Linked DNA regions of Homo sapiens. The protein of the gene in region 3 purifies or fractionates together with the protein of the main gene of each other region. This does not show direct contact. Each region holds a gene or a part of one and is shown on either strand. Other genes may lie near its edges.

Region 1 (2,757 bases), on a different chromosome or scaffold from region 3:
AGAGGGGAGACGGAAAGTCACGGGGAGACACCGACAGCCAGAGGTGTGGAGACAGAACGAGAAGACAGAGCAGTGGCGGTGAGGGAGGAAGGCAGAGGGCTGGAAAGAAACGCACAGAAGCAGGGAGAAGGGACGGGGGACAGAGGGACAGAGTGACTGGAGCTGGAGGGGGAAGAGTGCAGGGAGGCAGCTTGCTTTGGCAGGACGCATGGAGGTGTCAGACGTGGGGGGCGGGGTGGCGGCCAGGCCAGCGAGCCAGGCCAGGGCCAGGACGGACAGGAGACACGGGGGTGGGGGCCGGATGCCCACCTAGGGGTTGTCTCCCAGCGGGGCCCGCCCTCCCTGACTCAGCCTTTCCACCTACCCCGACCCCGGGAGAACTGGGAGGGGGATGGGAGGCACCCGCCCTGGGGCCCACCACCCCCAGGTCTCAGAGGCAGTGACCAGGGGGTGTGTCTCCCGTCATCCCTACCCCACTCTGTCTCCACCTCTCTTCCTGTCTCCCCATCTAATCCCTGTCCCTGGGACTGGCTCCACCTCTGTCTGTCAGCTAGATGCTCACGTCTTGACCATCTGACTAACCCTAATTCTGACTCAATTTCTGTGTCTCTCATCGCTTTTTAAAAACCTACACAACAAATTTACGTATAGCAAAGTATATTGTAAACAAATTTAATGACCAAATGATAGACTGGTAAAAAATGTGCCTATCACCAAGGGCTGATACCTTTCCTGTGGCCCAGGCCCTCTGCTCTTTAAAAATGGGGCACAAATACAGGCAGGTAAGAGACAGACAGCTCTCATCCTGCACTCTTGGCTTTCTGAGAGATATGACCCCAAGGTCCTGGAGTCTAGCTGCTGCTTCCTCCTCTGGGAAATAGAGGAGTGATATTGGTAGTACCTAGGGCATAGCACTGCTGGGACAATTCAGTGATTTGGGGACTGATCTCCATATCAAGATGACCTGATCCTGTCTGTGTGCGGGACAGTGGCTAGCACGGAGCCCTTGTTAGGCCCGCCTACCATCTGACCCTTCTCAAACCTTCCCGTCTGAGGACATCTGCATGCACACTTGTCCCTCCAATGCTGTCTCACTCTGGATGGCCCTGACACCTGAGAGGCCAGACAGCCAAGTGGTTTCTAGGACCTTTGTGATTCTAGGCCTGGGTTCCTGTTTCATTTCTGCCTCTGATGGCCGAGTGGCCTTGAGGAAGCAACATCTTTCCAGGCCTCCTTTGACCCACTTCACTAGTTCATGGGGCCATCTGAGGATCCAACCCGGTGTCAGGCACTTCGCTCGGGCCTGACAGAGGACAGAAGCGCTCCGTAGCAGAGGCTTTCGTTCTTTAATAGTCGCTCTGAGCATCTTGTCTGCCTCCATCCAGCTCTCACTTTCCCTGTCTGGCTCTAATTCTGGTTGACCCAGAGGGCATAGCTGAGGCTCGGAGGTCAGGAACCGTGGACTCCAGGAGGCAGTTTTGAGGGTCCTTCAGGCTTGGCCACGGCAGGATACCACCATTCCATCTCAGAGGCATGAGGAGTCCCTAGGCCCCGACTTGGTGACCCTTGCCCTGTGTGCCCCCTCAACAGTGGCCAGGCCCTCCTGTGTGTGTCTGCTGGGGGAGCAGGAGCCGGGTGTGGGGGCATGGGAAGGCGGGACGCCTGGGTTCCCACAGGCCCGGTGGCTGAGTCACCAGGCGGCCATCTGGCTCCCATTAGCCCAGGGCGGCAGGGGGCTCCATGGGGCGGGCCCTGCGGCCAGCTGGGGGCAGGGACGCTGGGGCAGGCTGTGTGTGGGATGACTCAGGACCCATGATAACAGCCTGTGCGCATTTGGGGAGTGTAAACAGGAGAGGGAGAGGAAGGCGGAGGAAGGGAAAATTGTGGTTGGGCAGAGGGGGGCTGGTGGGGCTGAGAAGGGTAGAGTCCCCCCTCCCTCTACACTCAAGCTGGCAGGCCCCGTGATCCACAGCCTGGGTCCTGGGGAGAGAAGAGAGCTGCCCCCATCCTCCCTGCCTGGGGTCTCCTCCCTCCCCTGGGGCTGTATTACTCAGTGGTCAGGGTTCTGCTGCCTATAGCAGCCAGGTTTGAGGGAAGGGGGAAGAAGGGGCCCAGAGCCTGGAGTGGGGGATCAAAACCCAGAGATAAAGGCTGAGAGACAGACAGAGAGGGACAGTGAGAGCAGAGGCCTAGAGAGGTGGAAATGTACAAGTAGAAAGAAGAGGCCCAGAGTGAGGCAGAAGGAGAGATGGGAACCTAACAGAAGCAAGGAGGCTCTGAGTGTGAGACACAGCGCAGACATAAACAGAGAGGGGGAGACAGACAGCACGGGAGGCAGCTGCGCTGGGGCCTAGGGGTCAGCACCGGAACCAAACTGGCCACTTCCAGCCACGAAAGGCCCTGCCAGCTGGCCTCCGGCAAGGGGAGGACTTTCACCTTGGGCCCTGCGGTGGAGACAGAGCCTAAGGCAGAGAGAGAGGGGGAGAAAGGGAGAGACAGCCAGCCAGAGCACTGGAAAGAGGGAGCGGGGGTAGGGAGAGAGACAGAAAGACAGAAAGAGACAGAAAGAAGCCCAGACAGACACCAAGAAAGACAGAGGCAGGAGACAGGGTGGGAGAGATGAGAAAGGGAACCCCAGAAACAGTGGGGGTGGGGGTTGTCTGAGATGAGACTAGACCCAGTGAGATGGTGGTGTGTGTGGGTTGTGGGGCACTGCCCTGATGTCCCCCTAGAGAAAGGGTCACTGAGCAGGCCTGG
Region 2 (3,656 bases), on a different chromosome or scaffold from region 3:
TGGAGAGTTCAGGAAAAACTCATGTTTATCCCTAGAAGTGAGAATGTAGATTCCTAACATATGATCTGATAAGCTCTTGGTTGGCAGGAACCACATAGCAGTAATGATGTGATTGGTGAAAATCTGGGCACAGTCAAAGGCAAGTGGACCCTGGCAGTCTTGCTCCAAAGTACACTCAAAAAAACTCACATACGGCCAGGTGCGGTGGCTCACACCTGTAATCCCAGCACTTTGGGAGGCCGAGGTGGGCGGATCACCTGAGGTCGGGAATTTGAGACCAGCCTGACAAATATGGAGAAACCCTGTCCCCACTAAAAACACAAAATTAGCCGGGTGTGGAGGCGCGTGCCTGTAATCCCAGTTACTCGGGAGGCTGAGGCAGGAGAACTGCTTGAACCCGGGAAGCGGAGGTTGAGGTGAGCCGAGATCCCGCCATTGTACTCCAGCCTGGGCAACAAAAGCGAAACTCCGTCTCCAAAAAAAAAAAACATAGCATACTTGGCAGGGAATACCTCATTGTCACAAGTGATACCAAGGAATTGATACCTAATGCCCTAAAGTGGAAGCTCAAGATAAAGGAAAATAATTACTTCAATTCCCTGGCATGTCCACCATTCACATCCCACTGAAGCTCACCGGCCATCCAGGAAAGGTCCCATTCTCCCATTTCTTCTCAAACTCAGCCTGAATCTTCCCAAAAAGTTCATTCTGATCTTGGAGAGGCTTCACTCTATCTGTGTAATCCTGAAGGTACTCAAGCAGCATCTCTAGGTATCTACAGAGGAACACACAATGCAGACAAAGCAAAAAGGGTTTCTATTTTTGGTATCTTGTTATTCCCTGCAGAATATAAAGTACTTATAATTCTAGTAATGCTATCTTTTTAATACTCTTTTTTTTTTTTTTTTTTTTTTTTTGAGGCAGAGTTTCGCTCCTCTTACCCAGGCTGGAGTGCAATGGCGGGATCTTGGCTCACCACAACCTCCGCCTCCCGGGTTAAAGCGATTCTCCTGTCTCAGCCTCCCGAATAGCTGGGATTACAGGCATGCGCCACCATGCCCGGCTAATTTTGTATTTTTAGCAGAGACGGTGTTTCTCCACGTTGGTCAGGCTGGTCGCGAACTCCTGACCTCAGGTGATCCGTCTGCCTCGGCCTCCCAAAGTGCTGGGATTACAGGTGTGAGCCACCGCGCCCGGCCAATACTCATTTTTAAATGAACTTACAATGGACTTTTTTCCCAACATGTCATTTTGATTCTGACCTTTCCCGCCTCCTTTTATTCTCATAAAATGATGCTAAATACTAAGGTCTTAATTACTTTGCACATAAAAGATTTCAGTAAAAAGAAAATGAGAAAAAGAGGGGAAGGGTATAAAATCACTAATCAGGAGAGTAATTAACAAAAACATAAATTTTTCACTTATACATCACACCTAAGCATCTCACTTCAGTCACTATCTGAGAAAGTCTAATTTTTTTTCCCATTAAACTCCAAAAACACAGAAATCCCAGAGTGGGAGAGTTCCTTCTATAATGAGACAAAATTAAGAACACTATGGGCATAAGATGGAAGATGTGCCCACAGACACACCTTTGTCCACGTCCAGACTATCGCAAAGGTTTTAAAACCACATCATTCATAACCCCATCCTCCAATAAACCTGGAAGTATGCCTTCATGTATGCCTTCCAGGCAACAAATTCAGAACTTCACCCTCAAAAACTTCACATTATCTTCTAATCAAATCCAGGAGAGGCCTAGAAACTATTAATGCCTACCTCTTATACTCTGCATTCTTCCTTTCTTTAGGAATGTCAAATAATTGGTCAAAGATGGACAGGTATGTGATATAATCCAGCTTCTGAAAAGAGGAAAGAAATGACAAGAAATTCAGTTAGGTATTTATACTGTAACAAGTTACAATATAATCTCCAATAAGTGAGATCAAAATTGAGTGTTTTCTAAAGAAGTAACAAGGGCTGGCTAATTTTGGTTTTTTTTGCTTGCCTATCATTCAATCCTACTACAACTGGAGTGTTAATTTCACTGGACTGAAGGAAAATATCAGACATAATAACTTTACAAAATAAAGATCAAGTTAATGAACATTAAACTAAAAGAAACGTTTGTCGATTATTACCTCATGCTAGGGTCTTGGTTAAAGACTCTGACACCCTAAAACAAGGTGCTCAAAGGTGCCATTTGTTCACGCAAGTAACTACTTATTAAGCATCTTTGTACCAAGTACGGGGTACAGAAAACAACAAAACAGACAAGGGATCTGACTTGCCTGCATGGAACTTGAAGTTTGGTCACTACAACTCTGGGACATTTCTTCACAATTCCATGAGGAATCTAATCATGGATTTCCTTGTGATCCTTTTGAGATTGTCATATTAAACCTCATCTCTTGTGATAAGCTATTTTTTTTTTTTTTGAGACGGAGTTTGGCTCTTGTTGCCCAGGCTGGAGTGCAATGGCATGATCTCGGCTCACCACAACCTCCACCTCATGGGTTCAAGCGATTCTCCTGCCTCAGCCTCCTGAGTAATTGGGATTACAGGCATGAGCCACCATGCCCGGCTAATTTTTTCTATTTTTAGTAGAGACAGGGTTTCTGCATGTTGGTCAGGCAGGTCTTGAACACCTGACCTCAGGTGATCCACCTGCCTTGGCCTCCCAAAGTGCTGGGGTTACAGGCGTGAGCCACCGCGCCCGGCCTGTGATAAGCTATTTTTAAACATCTTTAAGAAAAGACATTAAATACCTTTTTGCTGACTGAAAGATCATGTTGTTTTATTTTCCATGTACCTAGTATTGTTTGTGTCTAAAACAGGAACACCTAGAAGAACACATAAATCTGGGTGGGCACAGTGGCTCATGCCTGTAATCCCAAGGCTTTGAGAAGCTGAGGCAGGAGGATTGATTGAGTCCAGGAGTCCAAGACTAGCCTGGACAATACAGTGAAACCCTATTTCTACAAAAAAAAATTTTTTTTTTTGAGTTTGAGTTTTGCTCTTGTTGCCCAGGCTGGAGTGCAATGAATGACACAATCTCGGCTTACCGCGACCTCCGCCTCCTGGGTTCAAGCGATTCTCCTGCCTCAGCCTCCTGAGTAGCTAGGATTACAGGCATGCGCCACCATGCCCAGCTAATTTTGTATTTTTAGTAGAGACGGGGTTTCTCCATGTTGGTCAGGCTGGTCTTGAACTCCTGACCCCAGGTGATCTGCCCACCTTGGCCTCCCAAAGTGCTAGGATTACAGGCGTGAGCAACTGTGTCCAGCCAGGAACATGGTATTTATTTAAAAAAAAAAAAAAAAAAAAAAGAATTTAAAGAAATCTTATGTAAGGCTGGATGCAGTGGCTTCCGTCTATAATCCCAACACTTTGTGAGGCCAAGACAGACGGATTGCTTGAGCTCAGGAGTTTAAGACCAGCCTTGGCAACATGGCAAAACCCCATCTCTACACAAAATACAAAAAATTAGCTGGGCATGGTGGCACACGCCTGTAGTCCCAAGTACTTGGTGGGGCTGAGGCGGGATCCATCACTTGAGTCCAAGAGGTCTAGGCTACAGTGAGCCAAGATCGCGCCACTGCACTCCAGCCTGGGTGACAAAGTGAGACCCTGTCTCAAAAAAAAAAAAAAAAAAA
Region 3 (3,276 bases):
TGTCCCAGCCCTAATTATCAACCTCACACCTTGAGAGCCATATTATAATTTGAACTTTTAAAAGCATGTATCTGTACCTACCACGTATTGGACACTGAGCTAACATTATTTTCTTATTTTTTTGAGACAGAGTCAACCAATTCTTGTGCAGGTGTGCGCCACCATGCCCGACTAATTTTTGTATTTTTAGTAGAGATGGGGTTTTGCCATGTTGGCCAGGCAGGTCTCGAACTCCTGGCCTCAAGTGATCCACCCACCTCAGCCTCCCAAAGTGCTACAATTTTCTTGACTGGCATTAAAATCTTAGAGTAGGAATAAGAACACCTAAGCGTGTAACTTAGCCTCTGTGAGCTTCGGATGCTTCATGTATCCAGTGCCATCAGGCTCTATCACGTGCCCTACCTTCCACGTGGGTTTAATAATCAAAAGAGGTAACAAGTATCAAAGAGTTTTAAAAAGTACAAAGTACCAAGTGCCTGCTACATGCCAGGTAGGGTCAAACCAAATCATCCTGATTTGACTGGGACTGTCCAGGTTTTAGCACTGAAAGTCCAGTGTCCCAGAAAATCTCTCAGTACTGGGCAAACTGGGAAGGTTGGTCACCCTAGTGCCAGGTGCCAGGTATACAATAAAGCATGATCACAGTAATGGAACAGAAAAACAGCTGTTTCTCAATCTATAATTTAGACCTAAGCTCCTGTACCCTAAACTTCTATTAACCTATTCAACACATAGACTATGTTCTTTCTGCGACAGGCACTAGAAATACAATAGTGAAAAAGATAAGCATCATCCCTTCCTTCAAGCTTATATTCAGGCAGTAGAAAGACATTAAATAAATATGAAATCATTATAAATCTTTTTTTTTTCTTTTTGAGACGGAGTCGCACTCTGTCGCCCAGGCTGGAGTACAGTGGCATGATCTTGGCTCACTGCAACCTCCACCTCCCGGGTTCAAGCGGCTCTCCTGCCTCAGCCTCCTGAGTAGCTGGGATTATAGGCATGCACCACCACGCCTGGCTAAGTTTTGTATTTTTAGTAGAGACGAGGTTTCACCATGTTGGTCAGGCTGTTCTCAAACTCCTGACCTTGTGATCTGCCCACTTCAGCCTTCCAAAGTGCTGGCATTACAGGCGTGAGCCACTGCGCCCAGCCCTGAAATAATTATAAATCTTAAGAAATGTTTCGGCTTGGCACGGTGGCTCATGCTTGTAATCCCAGCACTTTGGGAAGCCGAGGTGGGAGGATCACCTGAGGTCAGGAGTTCAAGACCAGCCTGGCCAACGTGGTGAAACCCCATCTCTACTAAAAATACAAAAATTAGCCAGGCATGCTGGTGGGTGCCTGTAATCTCAGCAACTCAGGAGGCTGAGGCTGGAGAACCACTTGAACCTGGGAGGCGGAGTTTGCAGTGAGCCGAGATCGTGCCATTGCACTCCAGCCTGGGCAACAAGAGCGAAACTCCATCTTAAAAAAAGAAATGTTTCATACAAGAAGTAGAAAGCTGTAACAGATAGGGAAACAGGGAGCTACTTCAGCTAGGGTGGTCAGGGAAAACCCCTCTGAAAAGGTGACACTGAAGCTGAGACCTGAAGAATGAGGAGGAGCCAGGCATGAGATGAGCTGGTGAAAACCATTCCAGATACAAGGAAAATAGAAGCACAAAGGTTCTGAGCTGCTCTGCACTCTTCTGAAGATGCCCCTGCTTTATTCCCTGTCCTTTCATTTTGGCTTTCTGAAACATTCTCTAACTTCACTGATTTTAAGCATCCCTTAATTGAGTACTATCAATAAATTTTATAATGCCCTAGTAAACCAATCACAACCACTTTTTATATTATTCTTCTATTTTCTTTTCTTTTGTTGAAACAGGATCTCACTCTGTCGCCCAGACTGGAGTGCAGTGGCATGATCTCGGCTCACTCACTGCAGCCTCAGCCTCCCAGGTTCAAGCGATTCTCCCACTTGAGCCTCCTGAGTAATTGCATTACAGGCGCGTGCCACCATGCCCAGCTAATTTTTGTATTTTTTTTTAGAGAGGGGGTTTCACCATTTGGCCAGGGTGGTCTCGAACTCCTAACCTCTGGTGATCTGCCTGTCTCGGCCTCCCAAAGTGCCGGGATTACAGGTGTGAGCCACCACATCTGGCCTATTCTACTATTTTCTATATTATTCATTTAGTATACATCGGGTGCTTACCATGTATCGCACAAGTGCTATCAACACAAAAACAAAAATAATATATGGTACGAGCCCTGGAGGAACTCACAACCTGCCCAGGGTGACAGATGAATATAGAGACAACAGCAAAACCATGTGTTAACCTAGGAGAGACACATGGAAATGCTATGGGAGCAGAAGAGTGGCTAATGTACACTGGGAAGGAAAACTGATAAAGTACCTTCACAGACACTGTGTAATTTCATCCAAATTAAAATTCTTTTAAGACAGTAGGTTAGGAAGACTGTATTTCATAGATAATTGAAACCCAGATAAGGTTAAATATTTTCTCCAGTTTCGTAAGAGTAGGCAAGCCAGTATTTGAACCCAGGCCTTACAACCAATCTATGCTGTTTCCACATTAAAAGCTAAAAGGCCACCACCCAGATTATCTCATACATGAAGAGAAAACCAAAAAAGCTAGGCAACTAGTCACACACATGGCTAGTAACAAGGCCTGAAGTAGAATCTTGTCTCCTGATCCCCAAGGCAGGGATTCGCCATGTTGGCCAGGCAGGTCTTGAACTCCTGGCCTTGTATACCATTCTGTATCTAGAGCAGGGTTTCTTGACCTAGAGTCCATGTATCCCCTGAAATATATGCAACATGAGTGTATTCTTCTGTGGAAGGAGTCTAAAGCTTTTATCAGATGCTCAAAGGACTGAGACCTCCTAAAAAGGACAGCTGGTCTATAACACTTTCACTTTCATCCCCATCTGAGTACCAATGATCATGTATTTCCAGCTCTTGGTTTACTCTCTGGAGGGACAGTGTCATTCAAAAGGAGGGTCCTCAAGACCTCATAGTCCTAAAGCCAGGAAGGAGCTCTCAAGTCATACAAGACGGAATTCCGACTAGAAATAAAAACTTTATACGTAGTCATTACTGTGGTAAAATAATAATTTTTTTAAAATAAAAACTTTAGAAATCCTTTCAGATGGACTCTTAAGTCACTAGCCCTTTCATATGAGTTCGGGTGTCAGAGGCTATGGTACTGTGTAATGTAGAGGTTCAATTTAGAGTCAGAAGATTTTACCACTAAGCACTGTAAGATAG

The links.
Region 1: the proteins of SF3B6 (region 3) and CCDC97 purify together in Homo sapiens (affinity purification with mass spectrometry; 4 studies listed by BioGRID and IntAct, with this or other methods). This does not show direct contact.
Region 2: the proteins of SF3B6 (region 3) and SF3A3 purify together in Homo sapiens (affinity purification with mass spectrometry; 3 studies listed by BioGRID and IntAct, with this or other methods). This does not show direct contact.

The regions. Positions count from the first base shown.
Region 1 is NC_000019.10:41,322,773-41,325,529, reverse strand, and holds the end of CCDC97 (coiled-coil domain-containing protein 97), read right to left. Parts: 3' UTR 657-2,757; downstream 1-656. UniProt on the Homo sapiens protein: May play a role pre-mRNA splicing through the association with the splicing factor SF3B complex which is involved in branch-site recognition.
Region 2 is NC_000001.11:37,979,950-37,983,605, forward strand, and holds part of SF3A3 (splicing factor 3A subunit 3), read right to left. Parts: intron 1,863-3,656; coding exon 1,780-1,862; intron 776-1,779; coding exon 637-775; intron 1-636. UniProt on the Homo sapiens protein: Component of the 17S U2 SnRNP complex of the spliceosome, a large ribonucleoprotein complex that removes introns from transcribed pre-mRNAs.
Region 3 is NC_000002.12:24,070,136-24,073,411, forward strand, and holds part of SF3B6 (splicing factor 3B subunit 6), read right to left. Parts: intron 1-3,276.